2 separate regions of the Homo sapiens genome follow, and region 2 is linked to region 1. Evidence: fine-mapped expression QTL. Tissue or cell type: tibial nerve. Region 1 holds a variant in brackets; the other region holds the start of a gene. All regions are shown on one strand. Distances are between the middles of the regions. Region 1 holds the start of LOC124902773 (a long non-coding RNA gene). Region 2 holds the start of OAF (out at first homolog).

The links. PIP is the estimated chance that this variant, and not a neighbour inherited with it, causes the effect.
Region 2: it holds the start of OAF, and the variant in region 1 is fine-mapped to the expression of OAF in tibial nerve (GTEx, PIP above 0.99).

What each region holds. Positions count from the first base shown.
Region 1 is chr11:120,182,108-120,192,929 of GRCh38, reverse strand. LOC124902773 (a long non-coding RNA gene) reads left to right here and starts at 7,332. Exons shown (of 2, transcript XR_007062923.1): 1 at 7,332-7,680. LOC105369530 (a long non-coding RNA gene) reads right to left here and starts at 6,737. Exons shown (of 3, transcript XR_948101.2): 1 at 4,084-6,737; 2 at 3,934-4,001; 3 at 1,659-3,814. The variant C/T (reference allele first, on the strand shown) is at 6,295.
Region 2 is chr11:120,206,176-120,216,997 of GRCh38, reverse strand. OAF (out at first homolog) reads right to left here and starts at 5,966. Exons shown (of 4, transcript NM_178507.4): 1 at 5,488-5,966. The coding sequence starts at 5,718. RefSeq lists silencers at 5,649-5,758, 5,849-5,898, 6,079-6,338 and an enhancer at 6,672-7,213.

The sequences.
Region 1 (10,822 bases):
GAGATTCTGAGCACATATTTACAGTTTACAGAAGTAGAAACAAAAGTAACCCTTTTATCTCCTCAGAGGAAGCTGGCCCTTCCACTGAGTACAGGAGCCGGAGACAATGTAACCTTCCCTGAGAAGATACTCTTTGGGGTAGGAGGCAGCTGTCTAGACGTGGCACCACCGAATGCACCCTAGCAAATCAGGAAAATCTCTTTTTCCTTTTTTTTCTTTTTTTCTGAGACAGAGTCTTGCTCTGTCGCCCAGGCTGGAATGCAGTGGCGCGATCTCGGCTAACTGCAAGCTCCACCTCCCGGGTTCACACCATTCTCCTGCCTCAGCCTCCGGAGTAGCTGGGACTATAGGCGCCCGCCACCACGTCCGGCTAATTTTTTTGCATTTTTAGTAGAGACGAGGTTTACACCGTGTTAGCCAGGATGGTCTCGATCTCCTGACCTCGTGATCCTCTCGTCTCGGCCTCCCAAAGTGCTGGGATTACAGGCATGAGCCACCGTGCCCGGCCATCTCTTTTTCCTTAAAATGCTCAACTGGTGTGTGCAGAACTCCCCCTTGCCTCAGCAACTGGGAGGAGTGCCTTGAAATGGCAGCGTGGGTCAGGAGCTGGGGCTCTGGGTCTAAGTGCCAGGTCGGCCATCTGCAGGAAGGAGCAGCAGCAAGATTCTCTACTGAGCTGGGCCCTGCTTTCCTCACCCGGTGGGGAATGTCTTTCAGCTGCGGGAGGTTATTTGTGACTGCCATCTTTTTCTCTTCTCTTCTTTTTTTTCAAAAAAAAAAAAAAAATCTTTGTGAGAAAAACCCCACCGTTCCACTTGTTTTCTCCGAGCCGTTTTGTTAGTTGAGGTGTTTGCATGCTGAGCAACACACACTAATATTTTCCTCCTCGTCAAAACATTAATTATCCCACCCAGGAACCTTTCTCTTGGATGTTTTTTCTTTACCACCCCTTAAGCTGTTGGGCACCAAGCGATTCCTGTATTTCCCATCATCTCAGCAAGCTGACTGTGATGTTTAAGGAGAGAGAGGCCCCCTTGGCTGGGTGCGGACCCTCCTTTGTGCTCTGTGGCACCCAGTAGTCAGGATGCAGTACTCAGGAGAGCTCCTGTCCCCCTGCTTCTCACTCTATGTGCGAACCATCTGTTTACATCTCTTGTCGTCTCCCACGAGGCTGTGAACGTCCTCATGTCTGTATTCCCGACACCCAGGACAGTGCCTGGCACAGAATAGTGGCCCTACAAATGTTTGCTGCACAAGCACATAAATGAATGAAAATGAAGATAGAATAATAAACACGCAGTAGGAGGAGTCAGGGTTCAAATCAGCCCCCCTGGTTGGGCCCCGCCCCCCAGCCTCCATCTCTTGCCTGTTCATAGAGGGAGCAGTTGTAAGCACAAGTTGGGTCCTTTGCTCTCCCTAGCACTTGGGAAGCCCCATCCTCTCTCCCTGCTTGAGGCCATTCTCAGCTGCCAGACAGCCAGTGTGTTCAGGGGGAGCCCAGTTTCCTCCTCCCTGGTCTCCCCTTGGTTGAGAGTAAGATGGGACAGCAGGGAGAATTCAGAACTTTAGAGTCTGGAAATTAGGGAGGCTCCAGGGAACAAATGCAGAGCTCGACAGGACCTTAGCAATCACTGGAGCCAGCTCCTCCCCTCCTCCCGCTTCAAAGACAAGCCTCCCAGAGGGCTGAGATGTCTGGTTCATGGTCACCTACAGGTGAGAAGTGGGGCTGGGATTCAGGCCCTGGGCAGTTATCAAGAAACAAGAGCCTCCTAATTAATTCTGAGTACAGGGCCTTTCTAGTCCCTCCTGCTACCGTGTTCTGTGCCACAGTGAGGAGGGCATGGCCTCATCATCTCCCTGTGTGCAGCGCAAACTCCTTTCATCTCCCTTTCAGCTCATTTGATCCCCACAGTGCTCTTCTGAAGTAGGCAGAGTGATGATTTCTCCATTTTGCAGATGAGGAAATTGTGGTGCAGAAAGCGTAACGGAGCTGCCTAAGGTAGCAGAGCTGTCCTGCGGTAGAGTTAGGGCTGCAGTCCTGCATCCAGAGCCCTGTGCCTGCACCCACCACATGCTCTTTCCAGGTCAGATCTCTCTGCTGCTCTGCCCCTTCCCACTAGGAGCCTGAGCATCTGATTCGACTTGGCTCCAACAGAGATACCAGATGTCCTGTAGTCAAGACCAGAGCCCAGGATCCCTCCTTCCCAGCTATGGCCAGGACTCTGCAGACAGTGGACCTCTCCGTGAAGGCCCAGAGCTTTCAGCCCTAGGCCCAGGGGCTGAAGGGCTGGCGAGTCTTCGTTGTTGAGATTAAAGCCCTTCTCCAACTGGAGAACATTTAAAATGAAACCTCCCCGTTGCATTTGTCCTGCTCAGTTTTGGAAAGTGGGCAGGTAGCTCACGAGAGGGTTCTCGTTCAGCCCCTGCCTGGCCTTACCACCCTCTTCTTTGGCCCTAAAATCAAGTGAGCTATTCTTTAGCAAGGGTGAGACACTAGGCACTGGCTTGGTCCACTTCGAAAGGGTAGAAGGGGGCTCCTAGGAAGGTATGAGCGATCTAGCCACTTCCCTCTCCATTCTGCATGCCGTACTGTCCTCCGTGTGTGCTTTAGAGAAAGGTAATGGTATGGCTGTTCCATGCAAATGTGTTTTCTCAAAGACATGACTTTTGTACCATAAGCTGTTTCCATCTAGGACCTATTTCTGTGGGATGGTCTGAGGGTGAAGCTAAGGAGAGAAGGCATATGTGAATTTATTTTGTTTATCTGAACATCTGTGTTTGGCCGGCCCCACCCCTACAATGTAAGCTAAAATGCTGTATAATAGGTTTATGTATGTACCTATACTGCCAAAGGTCATGGTTGAATCCTGTGACTAGGTAGAGTTTACCTGTCAATTGGCTAAATCAGAGACCCATATGTTTCATAGTCAAGGAGATTCTGCAGCATAAATGGCTGGCCCAGGGACCACTGGCCTGTATGCATCACTGCCCTGCTCATAAACCTCATGGCTCCCCACTGGCAAATGTTGAGTCCACCTTCCTCAACCTGTATTCAAGGCCTGCCATCATCTTCTTCCTGCCAGACTGGCCTTCAGGTCCTGTGCCTTGGCAGGTGAGCTTTTCCCCTGCCTCCCTTCTCTCTCTCTCTCTCTCTCTCTTCCTCCTTCCCTCCCTGTCTCCCTTTCTTCCTCCCTTTAAAGAGCACCAGACACTGTTTTAAGTGCTGGGGACACAGTCACTAAGTGTGGTGGACAAGACACAGGAGGCTTTAGCTTACGTTGTAGAGGTGGAGACAAAAGAAAACAGATATTCAAATAAACAAGATAAATTCAGATAAGTGCTATGAATACAATAAAACAAGATGATGTGCTACAGCAGGGGTTCCCCCACCGCCCATGCTCCTCAACGTTAGATTCTCAAAGGATGTGAACCCTATTGCGAATTGCACACTCCTTATGAGAATCTAATTCCTGATGATCTGAGGTGGTACAGTTTCATCTTCAAACCATCCACTTCCTGCCCTCCCATCCGTGGAGACATTGTCTTTCATGAAACTGGTTCCTGGTGCTAGAGAGCTTTGTGGGTAGGAGTGAGGCTGAATTCTCCCTACCCCCATGGCCTTCACAGGTAAATGCTGCCCATTGGTCAAAGCCTGCCCACATGTCACCTCTTCCAGGAAGCCTGCCTGCCTTCTCAGCTTGGCAGTGTTCTCTCCCACCACTGGACTCCAGAGCACTTTATTCCGCTCCCTTGCAGGGTGTGGAGTGGCTTGCAGCACAGTCCATGGTCATCCTTGCTGCTGGGCTGTAAGTTCCTTAAGGGTGGAGAAAGCACCTCTTTCAGCCCCTGCCTCCCACTTCCCCGGCACTTCCCTGGCACAGAGTAGCTGGTTAATAAGAGTTTGCTGAGAAAATGTGCAAGGATATCTCCTACCTCAGAGGGCAAAGAGCAGCCGGGGCCCATCCCCAGGGTCACCTGCTGAGAAGAGGCCACTTTTCTCCCTGGAGAGGGACAGAGGAAGGGGTATAGTTGAATGGGAGAATTTATGCCCAGGGCAGGAGGTGGTGGGTGGGTTCAACTCACCAAGGTAATCCTGTTGGACAGGAACACCTCACACTCTTCTAAACCTTTACAGACTTTGCTCTGATGAGAGGCCTAAGAAGAGTGTCATGCCCCTTCCTTGGCTTGGGGAAGTCTGGACCTGTGTGTAGGGGCGTGGGGTGAGGTGGGGTCGGTGTGCATTGTGCCAGGGTGTATGGCTCAGAGCATGTGTGCAGTGAGGTGTTTGTGAGGTGTCTGTGACTGTGGTCCTAGAACTGTGGGCATAGGATGTGTGAGAGAACAAGTGAGTGCGTATGTGAATGTGGTGGTGAGGTGCGTGCAGGGTGGCTGGTTTGTGTAGTGTCTTTGTGTGTTTGGATGTTGAGTGGTGGGCTGGTGGTGGTGGGGGTGTGTGTGTATCTGTGGTACAGCCCGTGGGGTTGGGGGACAGGGAAGGGTGGAGCAGCAGTGGCCTGGGCTCTGGGGGGCCAGCATCTGTGGTATTAGGGCTCAGAAAATGATACCCACAAAGATGGCACTTTGACATGCTGAATTGAAGAAGCAGCCTCCAGGTCTCTCTGACCTACCTCCCACAAAAGCCCCTGTCTCTCCCAAAGCACAGGATGAGGCTGTCTTCTGAAGCTCCCATATCGAACTGGAAACTGGACTCCCAAGCAGGAGCAGAATTGCCTTCGATCCCTCTCCTGAAATTTCATTAATCAGAGGAGATGAAAACTCCTACCACAGAGGAAGAGACTGATCACGAAACACCACATCTAGAGCCCAAACTGTGTCTCAAACTATTGTTTGTTCTCTGGTCCCATTCAGTTTCCAAAAAGAATCATTCACAAGATAATGCCTGCCTCCTGGCTCCATTCATCCCCCACCATAAAAGTATTTATGCCTGTAACACCTTGTCTCTTTCCACTATAAAGAAGGGTTTACAAGCACCTGGACCTCTCTGGGTTATCGGGTAATCATTCTCCCGCCATACCCCTGTGCTATGCATGTTAAATAACATCCGTTTACCTCTTTTTTCTATTGATCTGCTTTTTGTCAGCTCACTTTCTGCAAACCTTCAGAGGGTGAAGGGGGAAGCTTTCCTTCTTTGCCCCTACACTGGCAACTGGGACTTCACTTTCCAGCTGCTAGCTGGGGCCTTAGAGAGGACCCCACAACTGGAAGCCATCACAGCTCTTCCCCCACCCTGCTGGCCTGTGGGGGATGCTGTTGCCTCTTCAGCTCCCCTCTGACTGTGGTCCCTCTGTTTCGAAGCCCTAGCCTCAAGCCTCATCCCCACTCTCTTTCCTACTACCAAGAGCAGACACCAAAATATTTCTGCGTTTCCTCTGGAAAAATCCTGGGAGGTCTGTTTATGGCTGTAGCAAAGCGGCACACATCTGTGCACAGTTGAGCTGGGACAGCTGGAAACTCAGGCACTGGAGTTTGCTGGAATTCGGAGCACGTTGGTGTACACAGTGCCTGCCCCCCACCTACCCACCCAACGTGCCTCCCCATCTCTGCACGAGTGTCCCACCAGAGTCAGTTCTTGCTTCTATGAATAACCCTTCCCTGGCCCCTGCACAAACACACCCACATACGCAGACACACTCCTGCACACAGCCGATTTCAGTAGGACACACAGAGACAGAGAAAGGGACACGTGGCACACAGATATGCCAGCACATTCTGAGAACAAACTCAAGCATGGTTCCTCAGGTCTAGAGGCCCACAGACACACACAGGCACCCTCCCGCTTCACCAGGGCACACCCTTGACCTGTCACCCACCAGTAACACCTACATACACCAGCAGACACGCAGGACAACGCATGCTGACTCGGCACACCCACATATAAACATGCAACCCACACAGAAGGTGTGATTCACCTCCAGCCACGTACAGAAACCCACTCCCAGCCAGTCGGGGCCCGCCACCTAACCTCAGGCGAGGACTACCCTCCCCTGGGAGACCTGGGGACTCCTGAGCCTGGGAATGTCCCTGTTCTTTCCCATTGCCTGCCCTGTCCCTGACCCTGGCTCCCCTCTCAACTCTACCATGTGCTGTCTCTGTCAGGCAGGCCAGGGAACCTGAGTTCCCCCAGTCCTGACCTGCCTCTTCCTTCCCTTCTGTTCCTGTACCCCACATCTTTCCAGAGGCCTAGAAAGCTCTAGGGCTAATTATCTCATGGCCCTCCCTGCTGCCAGGAACTCCTCTGCCCAGTGGCTGACACCCCTTCTGCCTCCCTCAATC[C/T]TTCAGGGCTGCTCTTGGATCTGAAGTCTCTTCTTCCTCAGCCCCAGGCCCCCCAGATTCCCACAAGGCTCCCTGATGGGGAAAGAAATGTACTCTTCAGGACAGATTGGGGAGGAGCAGGCAGATGAAGGGAGACAGGAAGAAGGGGAGAGAGAAAGTGGAAAGAAACAAAATGAACAGATATTTCCTAAGGCCTAGGAAGGAAGGAGGGGCAGATTGAGTGCAGCTGTAGGATGCCCAGGGTAGCAGGTGTCTGTGGGGAGCAGGGACAGAGCTGGGCCACCTCAGACCCCCTTGCTTTGCTGGGCACCCATTTTAAGGGCTTACTTGGCCCACATGAGGACAAGGCCTCTCTAGCAATTTATCCCAAACTCCTGATCTTCTCAGGCCAGACCGGGATTCTCCAGGGCTCTTGGAGTGGGGAGTTCTAGGCCTCCTCTTTAGCCCCCTCCATCCATAATTTCCAACCTCACAAGCCTTCCCAATCCCCCTTGGGGCTCTTCCTCTGGATAGGAGCCCAGTCTGCATGCAGCCCCTGCCTCCTCTCAGCCCTTCCCACCCCCCACTTCTTTCCAAGCTGGAACATCACAGCTATTCTCAGCTTTCTGTCCATATTCTGTGGACAATCATGGAATTTTTTAACCCAATCTTGGGTTAGGAACACCCTCCAAACTCTACTGGAAGCCTCAAAGCACTTTCCTTCATATTTATGAGATCTGAGGCAGGTTTCTTTAAGTCTTTGCAACTTGGTTTCCTCAATGTAACATGGAAACACCCAGCTACTAGCACGGCTGTGAGCTTGGTCTCTGCAGAGCACCCAGCCCAGGGCGTGATGTTTAGCAGGGGGCCCTTGATAAATTTAAATTCCCTTCTCCTTCCCCCACTTTTCCCTTTTACTTTGCTACACACTATTTAAGCCAGGAGAGATCAAACTGACCCCATTGCCCTGGGACAAAGGAATGATGGCCTCAATTCAAGAGCAAAGTACAGGAGTTTTTGATTAACTCATAAACACTCCCGACTTCCAGCAGCCCAGCTGCTGTGGTGTGGGGTGGGGAAGGGAGGGGAGGGGAGGTTGTTGAGGGGACATGCAGGAAAGAGATTAGGAAATTCAGAACAGGAGGACACAAGGGCAGGGGAATGCTGAGGCCAAGGCCTTCTCCCACCACCTGCCTCCTGCGGGAGTGATTCCACAGTGCAGAGGGAGAGCCATTTGGAGGTCCGGCACCCGCTCTGCCCATGCCTATGCTTCAGGCTCTGTGAGAAGGCTGGACTCCTTCTGGAACTTCAGGACCTTGGATGCTCCCCTCCTCTGCTCCTGCCTCCCTTCCCCCAGCCCTGGGGTGTGTCAGATGTGTGTTTTCTCCTGGACTCAGCTGAAGCAAGGTCAGCCCAGCTTTCAAGGGGAGGAGCTTCCACACTCTAGGTCAGTGCTCCCGCGGACCAGGGACTTGACCAGAGAGCAGAGAGCATAGGGTGGGGTGTGGGGTGGGAGGACAGAGCACAGGGAGCCCTGGGCTCCCTCCAGAATCTCAGAGGTGCTCACATCCAGAGGGTCTCCCAGGAATCACGGAGCCCCCCCTCTGCCTCCATGCCAAAGGGATCCCAACTCATCCCAGGAAGAAGCCCAAATCTTTGTGCCATGGGGACCAAACATTCCACATGGTGGCTGTCCTCATGGTTTGCATGGTCATTCTGATTTCTAACCCGAATCTTTCCCGCATCGCTAATGGATCCTGTAGGTTCCAAGGAGTTAGTCATGATATCAAGTAAGCAGTTTGTTTCCCCTGAGGATGAGCCAAATTTTGGGAAGATTCTCAGCTGCCTGTCTCCACCCTCCTTCATCCAACTTACCACCCCGACCCTGTCCTCCTCCCCACCCGGACACGTGGGAAAATGCCCTGTTAGCCCTTCCAGTCATGTGAATGAGGCCACGATTCAAAGGCAGTGGGCAAGAAGGAGGCCACAGGGAGCAGCCAGAAAGAACCAGCCCTTTGTGCTAGACAGGGGTCCTTGGGGGATGAGTGCATTTTTGGCGTATTTAGAAATATTTATTTTTTATAATGAGCAGCAGAGGAGGAAAGGGGAGGGAGGGAGAGGCAGAGAGGCCAAGGCAGGACTTGGGAAAAGAGGCTGGAGCAGTGGTGAGGGCTGGGAAGGGAGGTTACAAGAGCGAAAGGAGAAACAGACAGGAGCCAAAGGGTAAGAAGTGGGGACAGAGAGGGAGAAGCAGGACGGTTCTGAAGACAGATGGAGATAGTGACGACACAGGTGCCTGCCACCATGCCCAGCTAATTTTTGTATTTTTAATAGAGACAGGGTTTCACCATGTTGGCCAGGCTGGTCTCAAAATCCTGACCTCAGGTGATCCTTCTGCCTCAGCCTCCCAAAGTGCTGAGATTATAGGCATGAGCCACCATGCCCGGCTGTCATTCTGATTTCTAACCTAAATCTTTTCGGCATATCTCATAGCCAGAGTTCTGGCTGGCGGCCTAGGAAACACCTCTCCTCCTCAGTCATTTGTAGAGTAGATATCAGTGATAGCTCTCCGGAGCCCCCATCCTCTCCCGGCCTGTTTTCCACTTGGCATGCTGTGTGGTGAGCCCTCCATTCACAGGCTTGTTTCCCCCAGGCACTGCCTTTACTGGCCTCAGAAAGCCTGACACCTGGCCCTGGCTGGAATACTCAGGTCCGTGTATTTACAAACATGGTTAGAGCATCAGCTCCGTGCCTGGAGTGTGCAAGGACCTGGGGAACCAGATATAGTCCCTCTCTCATGGAGCTGACCTAGCTGGGGAAATGGATGAGCGAATCAATGATTATACTGCATGATGATGGGGATGATGGCAGGGGCCATGGAACACAGTGGGGCTCTAGAGTGAAGGGTCTGGGGAGGTGGGGCGCGGGGTGGCAAATCCAGGAGGGCCTCTTGGAGGACATGGGGACATACTGAGTCCTGAAGAAAGGGAGATCTCATCTCTATCAAATTCTAGTGGGTTCAGGCTTGCTAGTCTCCTTTCCCCAGTCTTGCCACCCATTTTTGGGAAAAATAACAATAATTCATCAATCATTAATTCATCAGAAAAATACTTATTGCCTATGTAACATGCCAGGCATTGTGCTAGTGTCTAGAAATTCAACGATGATGAAGACCTAGTCACTGCCTCCCTGAAGCTCCCAGCCAAGTGAGAGAGCTGACAAGCAGGCAAGCAGTGAGCCCCTGGAGACCATGTGGAGTCTGTGCCAGGGCTCTCGGAGTGCACAGAACCCCTGTGAGCAACCAGCCTTCTCACTTGACACTCCTTCCCTGAACCCAAGGAAGAGGAGCCATCCTTGCCATTTGACAGAGGCTGCTGGCTTGCCCAAGGTTCTAGGGCAAGTACCTAGGGGACCCGCCACCTCTCCTCAGTTCTCAGACTCGAAGCCCCTGCTCTTGTGTCCTCCTAGCCTGGTCTTGCAGGAGAAAGAGGCTGAATGAAGGTGGGCTTGTCGCCTGGGTGCTGACTGCTCATGAGCAGGCTCCTGGGTGACCCTGCAGAAAGTTGGAACAGTGTCCTTCCTCTCAGGCTGCAGGTCAAAGATCTGGTTCCTTTGCTTCTCTGGCTTCTCCCAGTAGGTGGGGCTGTGGGAAAGGCTGGGAAGGTCAAGGGCCTCTGGAGTACTCTAGGCCCCTGGGCTTAGCCTGGCAGAATGGTTCTCCTCTACTTCCTACCTTCTCCCTCCTCCTGCCACATCCTCCCCAGCCTCCTTACCTTCCTCCTCCTCCTCCTCCTCATCTTTCCTGTGTCGTCCTCTTCTCCTTCCTCATTACTTCTCTTTCTCCAGTTTTCCTCCTCTTCCTCCTCTCCCCTTCCCTTCCTTTCCATTTTCTCCCCCACCTCCCCTCTTCCCTCCTCCTCTTTCTCCTTTTCTCCTTCGAACTAATTGCTTAAGGGGTGAAGACCAGGTCGACTTGTGAAAACCCTGATCCATCGCCATGGTGATGCTCATTCAAACTGAGTTCAAAGGAAATTGTTCCAGTTAAAACTAACAAGCTGGAGCCGAGGGCCCCAGGAAGGACCAGTGCCAGGAGGAGCAAGCCCTGCACCCAGAAAACTAGCAAAAACAAGCCCACGGGTCGCTTATACTCCACCCCTCTGTGTCTTCTCTGCAACCTTCAGATGGGCCCAACTAAAAGGGAACCTGAGAGGTCCTTGCAGGGAGCCCCCTGCCTCCGGGCCAGACTCCACCCAAGCCACTTCAAACAACAGAAAGGCCTGCACCTCCTCTGTGGTAAAGCCCTCCACTACCATCACTGCACAGTCTCCCTTACGCTAGGGTGCTGGTTTTTAACCACCCATGCTTTTGGAGACTTCTTCACGGTTTACACAAACACTTCCCATTGCTTTCGAATACACGTGGATTTGAAAGTACCAAGAGGAAAGGAACAAGAATGGCTGAGGCACCTGCCCCCTACCTAGGTGCTGTCCTAAGACTTCATACATGTTCACGCAACCCACTAATGCCATTATTATCTCCACTTGGCGAG
Region 2 (10,822 bases), 24 kb before region 1:
GGAACCCTGGGTCCTAATCTGGGATCATCAGCTGCTTCATCTTGTCAGCCTCACTTGAGAGCTCCAGGCGATCAGATAAGAGCATGTGTGACATGAGGGACTGCTCAATGGGTGATCTCCAGACCCTATGCAATCCTCACTTCAAGGCTGGGCCCTCCGCCAGCGGAACAGGAGTCTGTCCTAAGTTTATCTCCACCACCTCTCTGTGCCTTGGGAAGCCTGGGAGGGAACTAACTCACTCTCCCCACCAGCTTCCCAGCAGGATCCTCCATTATCCCAGGTGGCAGTCTTCATGGCCTACCGGGATCTTTTGCTAGGACTCCACCTGGACATAGCATTCAGGGGTGGGAGATGCTGGCCAAGCTCCCGGGAGGGGGTCTGAACCCTCAGGCAGGGCTGGCCATCCTGATCTGAGGAGGAATTCCTCACACGCAGAGGAGGGACAGATATTAGACCCAGGAGCCCCATGTCAGTGAGCCTGGTCATTCCATCTGGCGACTTCTTGTAAATACCTGTGAGGAAATGCTCTGAGCTCCAGAAAAGTCTGGGCCTCTCCCGAAAGCACCTCCACTGCCTTTTCCTCCCCAAGGAGACTTTCCATCCATCAGATGCTTCCACGCCAAATCTTAAGGGTGCTAACACAGACAGGGTAGGGGCAGACTGGGCCCTGAAAGCTTCTCGGTCCCACATCTATGTGCTGTGATATCTCCTTGGGATACACGTTCTTAGGTGGCAACGTGGACATTGCACATTCCACATCTTTACTGACTGCACCTCAAGGCTTCCCATGTTGCTCCCCCACCCACAGACCAGGCCCCCCGGCACAGGGGCCCTAGCATTCTTTGGACTATCCCTTCCTCTGGCTCCCACTCACTCATCAGTGCCCAGGACAGGGCTCAAGCTTCCATCCTCCATGGGTCCTTGTCCCTTCGAAGCGGCCCTGAGCTGACCCACACAGCTGTACAGTTCCCCTTATCTTGCTTATTCCCTCCAGGGCTCCAGCTGTGGGCCTTCAGGATCCCCTCCTTCCACACTTTTGGAGTCTGTGTCTCCCTATCCTCCCTGATGCTGGGAGGGGAAAGGGACCCCCACCGCCCACCACCGTGATGCCATCACACATGACCTTCTTCATATCTGTCAGTATCACCCTCCCCATCCGGTCAGCCCCAAGGCAGGCAGCCTGGAGCGTGACTCATCCTCTTCCCAGCTTTTGGCCACTCGGACTAGGGGACAGAGGTGAAAGAGAAACTGGCAAGAATACCAGCTTCCAGGAGGTAGACCAGAAGGGCTGTCAAATAGCCAGTTTAGGGAGAGGGGATGGTGACACACCTATGATTAGATATGCCAGTGATTATGTACATCCAGGGCTAATTACACCCATAGGATGTGGAGTATAAAGGAGAGTGTTGCCCACCAAGGGCGCGCTGTGAATTAGTTTGTGTACTGAGGGCACACAGCATTAGGCCCGAAGTATATGTGCTGCTCAAAACACATTAGGATTAGTGTGGGTAAGATGACAGGTTTCAAATATGTGACTGAGTTTGGGCCCTACCCTCATTTAACCTGAGCTGGCTCCTTCTCCAGGTCCCCTCCCCTCCCCTAGAGCAACTGCGCCAGTGGTTCCCAAACTTTGCTGCACACTGGAATCACCTGGGTTCTTTTGTCACCCAGACTGGAGTGCAGTGGCGCGATCCAGGCTCACTGCAACCTCCGCTTCCTGGATTCAAGCGATTCTCCTGCCTCAGCCTCCTGAGTGGCTGGGACTACAGGTGCATGCCACCATGCCCAGCTAATTTTTTTTTATTTTTTATTTTTTAGTAGAGACGGGGTTTCGCCATATTGGCCAGGCTGGTCTCGAACTGCTGACCTTGTGATCCGCCTGCCTCAGCCTCCCAAAGTGCTGGGATTACATCACCTGGGTTCTTTAAAAGAAAAAACAAAACCAAAACGACTGCTGCCTGACTCCCACCCTGAGATATTCTGATTTCACTGGTAGGGTGTGCAGCCCAGGCAGTGGGAATTTTCAAAGCTCCCCAGGTGATTGTGAGGTGCGGCAAAGCTGGGAGCCACTGAGCTGCGGCATTCTTTCAGAGCTGTGGCTCGGTCAGCCTGATGGCCTTCACTCAGCCTCTGGGCAGGGCTTGCAGTAATGCAGGATGGCCATCTGATAGCTCCAAGCTACTGAGTCTGCAAGCCTCACCTGGGCTCCAGGCTATGTGTCCTCCAGTGGGTTGACGACTGTGACTGCTTTGCTGCGTCAAGGTCCAGAGCAGTAGTGTGGGAGAGAGTTAGACTGTCAGAACTCTGACGCGGGTAGAGGCAAACAGGTGGGAAGGGCTGGAGAGAGGGGGCTGGATAGGGTTGGGAATCAGACAGAAGCCTTGGTCCCATCCCACACAGGGAGGCTCACTGCTGCCCTGGGTGGACTGTCAGGACAAGGATGGCTGCTCCTGCTCTGAGGGGCTGGCCAGCAATTTTGGCACTTCAAGGAGAAGGTTAAGATGAAGAGCTCAAGGATCCTCCAGGCTCAGTACTGACTTTTCTGCATGACCTTGGGTCCGTTGTTCAATGTCTTTGAGTCCAAGTTTAGCAGAGAGGATCCTTGCTGAAATGCTGTGTGAGCCACAATTGCAAAGCTAACAGCTCCTATGTCTTGAGCCCTTAACACAGTATCTAATACAGAGTAAGGATGTCATAGGCACTACTAACTGTGGGATATGTGCTATTATTATCCCCATTTTATAGATGAAGAAATGAAGGTCTGGAGAGATCAAGTAGCTTGCCCAGGGTGAACCTGCTAATAAGTGGTAAACCAAGTCTGTCTCATTCAGTCTGGACTGTTCTCCCCAACGTGATCAAATGGCAAACAAGGCTCTTCCCAAGTAGATGAGGACTTTTCCCAAATCACTGCAAATGAGTTTGGTACAAGAAACACAAAAAGCGTGACTTCCCAGGCTGGAGTGCAGTAGTACAATTGCAGCTCAGTGCAGCCTCAGCTCCTGGGCTCAAGTGGTTTTCCTGCCTCAGCCTCCTTGAATAGCTGGGACTACAAGGCACACACCAGCGTGCTCCGCTAATTTTTAAATTTTTTGTAGAGACAGGGGTCTCGTTTGGCCTGAAGATTTCATATTCCTGGTTTCAAGCGATAAGCCTGCCTCAGCCTCCCCAAATCCTGGGATTACAGATGTGAGCCACCACACCGAGCCGAAGTCTTTTTCTTATAGGAAAAATCATTCCTTCTAGACCAAACTTTCTTATGGAAATCTGACAAACACTATGAGGCATGGGGCCTTGAGAACTGAGAGGTGACCCACCCTAGAAGGATCTGGACATAGAAGCTGCTGTGGCCAGTGCAGGCAGTGAGTGAGTGGCCTGGGTGAGGGTAAGGCTATTCTCCCCCACACTGCACTCTCCAACTCCACCCCGTCCTAGGCCAATGGAGAAACCTGGAGTTAAAGGGACTTGGGAAAGCTGGTTTCCTTTCGGTGTCTTCCACTCCCAATTCCCTCCCTTGCTGATGAAATTGGAGATGCCAGAGGTGGGTATGAAATGGTAGCTTCTGGGTCAGAGGCTAACCTGAAAATCAGACTTTAGAAACCTGGGTGGAGGTCTGAACCACTGTAGAGATTCAAATGAGGTGCTCACAATCTCCAGATGCATTTTCTAACTGGGCAGTCAGATGACCAGCATACCCTCACTCCAATCCCCAGCACCCCACCCCCGCCATCAGCCACTACTGCCAGCACATCACAGCTACCTGGGTACTTCTTAGCCTCTCCCTTCAGATCACAGCAATAAAAACCTTCCAGATGTAGCTAAAGGCTATAAAAGCTCAGCCCTACCCATTGCCTTTCACTGTCCTGGCCACAGCCAGGGAAGTCTCTCTGCAGGATTCTAGTGCAGCCACAAGATGACATCCAGTGGGCAGGGGGTTGGGAGCCTCACAGCCTGGCCTAAGGCTAACTTTCAAGGACAAAGGGCTTGGACAGAAGATTAGATCCCCGATTCCTGATGGATCCAGCCACTAACATAGATTTTTCAGGAACAGAACACACTTGATAAAATTCTCCTAGGGTTTAGGTGGGGAGGCAGGGTGCCTAGCTTAGGCCTGCGGAGTAAGGATGGGCTACAAAGTCTTCCCATTTGTGAACGCTCACTACCCCACCCCCCATCTGCCTGCTTATGTCCAATGTCAGTGCCAACTCCGTGGCCCTGGGGCAATCAGCGGTCAAGCCTCACCCCCCAACCCCACCCACCTCTAGCGGTCAAGCCTAACCCCTCACCCCTGCTAACTATGGCAATCTGGCTGGGTCCCTAACTGACTTCCCAAACTCCGCCACCTCTCCTCTAAAGCGCCCTGTCTCTACGAGGGAGGAAAGACAGGCAGCTTCAGCAAGGGTCCCCGGGGCCCCGGGCTCCCCCAGCTATCTAATCGGCTTCACCCCTGCACTCCCCCAGGGACAGAGCCTCACAGGGCCTCTCTTTAGCTGGGGGAAGGAGACAGAACGCTCCTTTTGAATACCTAAGACTTACCCACCCTCTTTTCCTCCAGCTTTCCTGCTGCTGGGTCACTGTTAGTCACTCACCATCCAGGCCCATTTCCTGATAATCCCCCAGCCCCCTGGGTGCAAGGCCCTTCTTATTCCCTCCAACACAGACACACACACACCAAGAGCGGGCTGGTCTCTAACTCCCAAACCGTAATCTGGGACACACACCCACACACCCACACCCACCCACCCACCCACCCACCGGGCTGGTCTCTAACTCCCTAACCCTAATCTGGGCCAAAATAGGGGGGTTGGCTCGCTTCTCTGCCAGGCAGAGTGAAGGGCAGCACTTCTCCCAGAGGGAGGGGGCCTCAGCTGGGGTCTCTCTCCAGGATCCTCCTGCTGCAAGCGCCCCAGCCTTCCAGACCAAAGAGGAGACAGGGCTTCTCCCGGCTTGAGAGGGACCAGGGGCAACCAGCTCTCCCCAGAAAAGTGAAACAGAGGGAGAGGTGACAGAGGGACTCCAAAATGTCAGGGCTGGGAGGCCTCGCAGACCCCTCAGTGCCCTGTACAGGGGTGAGAAGCCAGGCCCATAGGAGGAAAGAGGCTTGCTTGCTCTAGATCACACAGGGAGAACCCACAGTGAGAGCCCACAGCGAGAACACTTCGCCTAGGACTTTCCCACTAGAGCACAGGGGAATGACTCCAAGAAGGGAGTCCAGTCGTTAGTAGGAGTTCTGGAGGAGGGTTAGCACCTGGGGGGCTCTGGGAGCGCTGGAGGAGGGAGTGAGAAAGGGAAGCAGAGGGGTTCTTTGGAGAGAATGAAGGGGTGGGCCCTGGGGAGTGGGCAAAGAGGTGTAGAGAAGAGCCCGGCGTGACCTTGGGCCAGCTGCGTCTCCCTCCTGGGCCCGTCTTTCCGTCTGCAGGCAAGAGAGCGCCTGGGATCCCGGGGGGCTCAGGCTTGAAGGTGCCACCCCGGCGAGTGAGGGCGCCTCACCTTCTTGAAGTCGGCGGTGAAGGAGACGAGGGTGCCGTCGGGCTTGCGCAGCTCGAGGCTGATGCTGTCCGCGTCGCTGTCCGCCTGCAGGCTCTCCTCGGTCACCTGGCCGTCCGGCAGCCGCACGCGGACCCGCAGCTCGGCCGGCGCACCCGTTCCCAGCAGCGGCGCGAGCAGCGGCAGCAGCAGCAGCAGCGCAGGGCGCGCCAGGGGTACCCCGGGAAGGCGCATCCCCGGGGGCCGCTGCCGTCCGCGGCCCCGGCGCGCCGCGTGGGGGCGGGGAGAGGCGCAGGCAAACTTCGCCCAAAGTTGGGGGCTAGTTCGGGGCGCCCGGGAGCCGCTCCGCCGGGGGCCTTGGCCGCGGGGTCGCCCGCGAGGTGGCGCGGACGCACGTGGGTAGCGCTCAGCAGGGCGCCCCCGGCGGCCCCGAGGCGGAGACGGCGCTGCCCCGGCCCGGCTCCGCGGCCCCGGGCTCCAGCGCTGCGAGCCTGTGTTTTGCACTTTTCATTCAATCCCACCCCCCGTCACTTCCTTCAGAAAACAGAAACCACCAGGACCCGCCTTAAAGAGACCGCGCACCTCGCGGCCCTTAAAGGGCCCGCGGCTGCTCTCCGCACTTCGGCGTTGGCCGGGCAGGGGGCGGGGAGAGGGGGCAGCGGCTCCGCGGCTTTGTGCGAGCGGCCTCCTCGACCTCCCTCCCGCCCGGCCGCGCGGAGTCAGCGACCCAGGCGGAGTCAGAAGTTTGCTCTCCCGGGGCAAATCCCTTCCTTCCAGCAGGGGCAGGACGGGTGACTCTTCCCCCGCCCTGCACCGCCACCCCCCCCCCCCGCTTTTTTTTTTTTGGCTTGCTTTTGTGCCACGTGGATGAAATAATCGGGCTTGGATTTTTAGGGGTTTTGTTTGGTCTTTCAGTTTCTCTGACAGCGAATTTCTAAAAAGCTTCTGCAAAATCAGACCTCGCTTTGCACTCTGCCTTTTCCCTGCCCCACACTGGGAGGGTGGATCGGGGGTTCTCGCCCAGCTTTGCCACGGCCAGGTGTTAGACCTTGATGGGTCAGGTCACCCACTGGGACGCGGCCCTCAGGTTTTGTGAGCCCCTGTGCCTCTTTCCTTTTCAGTCCTGCCTCCCGTGCTTCCCGCATTCACGGCCTTTCCTCAGTCCTGCCCACCACCGCAGACCCGGTTCTTTCTCTCTATTATAGACTATGAAAATCCAGGGAAATGTTGGATTCCAGGTCACTTGGGAGAATTTCCAGGGACTCGGGACGCTGGCGCTCCACGACAGTGGCTTTCCCACAAGCCACAAGGAAACATGCGTGCCCTGCGGTGCACCCCAACAATAAGAAGGGTGAAGACCAGGAGATCTGGATTGCTGCCTCCTCTGATTAGTTGTGGAATTTAGGCACGTTTTAAAAATTCTTTGGGCTTAAGTGTCCCCGTGTGTATCGTGGAAGCTGCTCAGACCTACACTGTCCTGCCAGTCCCAGGCAAGGGAAAAAGCCCCACGAAGATGCTCAAAACCAATTGTTCCCTGACTTCCATTTTCACTTCTGTTGGGACCTTGATTACTGATGGGTGAAAACTCCCTTCTCTGCAGCCTCCTTCCCTTCTAGGGCTTCCCCAGCACAGGGCCATGTGAACTGCAGGGTCCGGCTAGAATCGGCCTCTTGCTATCATCCAGGGGCCCTTCCCGCTACCCGCTCTCTGCTGCCTAGATTTAGGACTGAAGGGAATTTAAGAGACTACCAAGTCAGCCTTTTCCAAATTTGCCTTTCCTGAAGAATCACCTGGATGCTTGTTAGAAAATAGATTCCCGAATCCCTAAACCCATGGAATCAGATTCTAGGGAAAAGAACTGAGGATTAGCATTTTTGACAAGGCCCACATGATGCTCGACATAAGTGGTTGACAGCAGGTATTTGGCAGATGTTTAAGCATAGAGCGTCTGGGCCAGACGCGGTGGCTCATGCCTGTAATCCTAGCACTTTGGGAGGCCGAGGCGGGCGGATTGCCTGAGCTCAGGAGTTCGAGACCAACCTGGGCAACAAGGTGAAATCCCGTCTCTACTAAAATACAAAAGAAATTAGCTGGGTGTGGCGGCGTGCGCCTGTAATCCCAGCTACTCGGGAGGCTGGGGTAGGAGAATTGCTTGAACCCAGGAGGCAGAAGTTGCAGCGAGCCAAAATTGCGCCACTGCACTCCAGCCTGGGTGACAGAGGAAGACTCCGTCTCTACAAAACAAAACAAAACAAAACAAAACAAAAACATAGAGCATCTGAAACAAGCAGCATCCTTCCTGGAGAACCTGGCTCCTAAGGAGTTCATCTTCACATCCGGGAGATAAGGCAGGCTGTTAGGGAATAATTGGATTAGCACAAGGATTGCTCCCCTAAGGACTCCCACTCTTAGCTGGCAACCGTTTAGACTAGAGATGCCCAGGGTCTTGAAATTGGCCTCCCGCCTGACAGGATGCTGGATCTCCATGCGGCCTTGAAGCTAGGTCTCCCACATGAGTCAGCCCACACAGTCATTAAGGGCCTCGCCCACATTTCCTAACTTCCCTTGTTTCAGGTCCTGTCCCCATCCGCCACCAGCTCTGCCCTCAGCCATTTCCCAGGCTCTTACCCCTTCTCCTCCCACAACAGCCCAGAAGTGGGCAAAGAAGCCCTGGATGTCAGATTTCTTGTTTAGGTCCCTGAGGTTTGTCTCTGTTCACATTTTGGGTTTGGAAACAAGGATGGAAGACCTCATCTCTTTCCCACCTCTTCCCCATAGTCAACTTCCTTCTCTACTTCAACCACAGATCAAACCAGATTTTTCTTTGAAAGTGATAGGGCATTTGAAATCTCACTCCATTACATAAGCCCTGCCTACCTACATCTCTATGCCTTGCTATTGATTTCACCTGACCACCTCTTCAAGCTCCAGGACAAAACTCAGGTTTCCCAGGAAGACTTTCTCGACTCCCCACCGACCTAGCCCTCTGTTCTGTGCCACTGTCTCCGGCCTCTGGACTCCAACAATAGTCATTATTATAGCAGCTCCTCCCCCATTGTATTTTGATTATGTCCAGGTTCTGTGCCAAGCATTTTACATGGATCATCTTATTTAATTTTCATGGCATCCCTCCAAAGTAGGTTCTATTCTTAGGCTCTTTTTACTGACTAGGAAACCAAAGCTTAGAGAGGTTAGGCAACATACCCAAGGTCACAAAAGCAGTAGAGCCAGCCGGGACTCAAACACAAGTCTGCCCGCCTGACCACAAAGCCCTTGCTTTGAACCACAGTAGCCTCTGCCTGTCGGTAGCCCTCACTTTCTGCCAGTCCCACTCGGGGCTCACATCCTGCGCTATCTTCTCCTGTTATCTAACGGTTTCGCGTGTGGCAATCCTGTATCCCCAGTGAAGCCGTCAGCTAGTTCAAACAGGCCAGCCCCGTGCTGGGAACAGACAGCGTTTCCCTCAAACCATCCGGGCATAGAAGCATCCATTCATCTTAAATGTAAAGGCCGTCAGAGGAAGAGCTCTAACAAGCCTAATTACTCCGACTACAACCAAACAGCCCTCATTGTCAGAGAGTTCTTCATGTCTCATCGCAAGACCTCTGCCACACCATAAACCAATTTCCTTTTTTTTCTCATCTCTAGCCCTTGGAAAGCAGTAGCCAGTAGTGGTTCAGAAAATGGGCATCAGGATCTCAGTCCTGGAGCTCGGCCCCAGTCATGAGCTGTGCGTCAGTGAGCCTGTTTCTTCAACTGTAAAATGGGCGCATACGTTTCTCCCTCACTGGGTTGCTTTGAAAATTAAATGAAACATTGTGCATAAAATATTTCGCAACATGTTTGGCATATAGTACAGATCCAATAAATGGTGGCTGTTATCCTTTAATTCTGTTTATTCTTTCCCATTGTATCACATACTAAATCTCTGATTATACAAGTCTCTCCCTCTCACCCCCTGCCACATGTATACGCGTGCATGTACACATATTCTTTCAGAAACATTTTTTTGGCTGGGCGCGGTGGCTCACACCTGTAATCCCAACACTTTGGGATGCCGAGGCGGGTGGATCACCTGAGGTCAGTAGTTCGAGACCAGCCTGGCCAACATGGCAAAACCCGTCTCTACTAAAATACAAAAATTAGCCGGGTGTGGTGGTGGGCGCCTGTAATCCCAGCTACTCCGGCGACTGAGGCACGAGAATCGCTTGAACCCAGGAGGCAGAGGCTGCAGTGAGCTGAGATCGTGCCACTGCATTCCAGCCTGGGTAACAGAGCGAGTTGGTCTCAAAGAAAAAAATAAATACATAAAAAAGAAATATTTCTTCCTCTCTATCCTCTTTAGGTGTCTAAGTTTTCTGTGTCTTGAGACCTCCGAAACTGAGAAATGGATAGCAGCAAAACCTCGGGAGGCACTTTCCCTTTGCTTTTTGGTCTGAGTGTGCCTTAATTTGGGAGGAAGAGAAACACCAAACCATCTCCCAATCTGTGCCCAAGAAAACAGGTGCTGACAAGACCCTGCAGGAGGTGGAAAGGGAAACTGAACCAATGACCTTTACCGAGAGACAGGGAGAGAACCACCAGGTGCTTGTCTTTGCAAGACTGGAAAGATTTTTTTCTTCCCATGACTTTCTGTGAGTGGCTGTTTGGTTTGGGTTAGGTTACAGCCCCTTTGTCTCTGGGCCTTTGCAGATAGAGTGGAGGATTTGCGATTTGAGTTTGAGGGAGAACCAGGGATGGAGTGAGGGATCCCCTCTGCTTCTCAATGTCAATTGCAAAGCTCCAGACACTTCATTGCCAGCACAGAAGTACAAATTAGCTTTCCGCCATCACACAATTATGCAGTTCCATCCATCAAGGGTGTGGTGGGAAAGTGGATTGGAGAGACAGCTGGTGGGGATACTGAGTGGAAAGGGAAGAGAAGTGGAGATGGCTGGGATAGGCATGGAGAAGCTATTCTTTTCGGGCAGAAAAACCAGGCAGAAGGGAAGTTGTCATGGAGGTGGGCTGGATCCATGACTTTCAGGAAGGAAAAGGAAGCCTGGATGATCAGAGCTGCAAGCCAAGGCAGATCTCAGTCCATTGATTAGTCCATTGATTATGGTAGCTCTTCAGGTGCCTTTTACCCTCTGCCTCTTGCTATAATTATTTCACAGTATTTGTGTTTGAAACCAGAGGCTACAAAAGAACCTAGGCCAGCTGTAAGTGGTGCTGCTCAGATTAGAAGCCTGGCATTCTGAAGCCAGGGCTTGTCTCCTCCTTTGACACGGCACAGAGCTCCATGTTGCCCATTGACTCTTGAAAGTCCCAAACATAGCTGGGCACGATGGCTCACGCC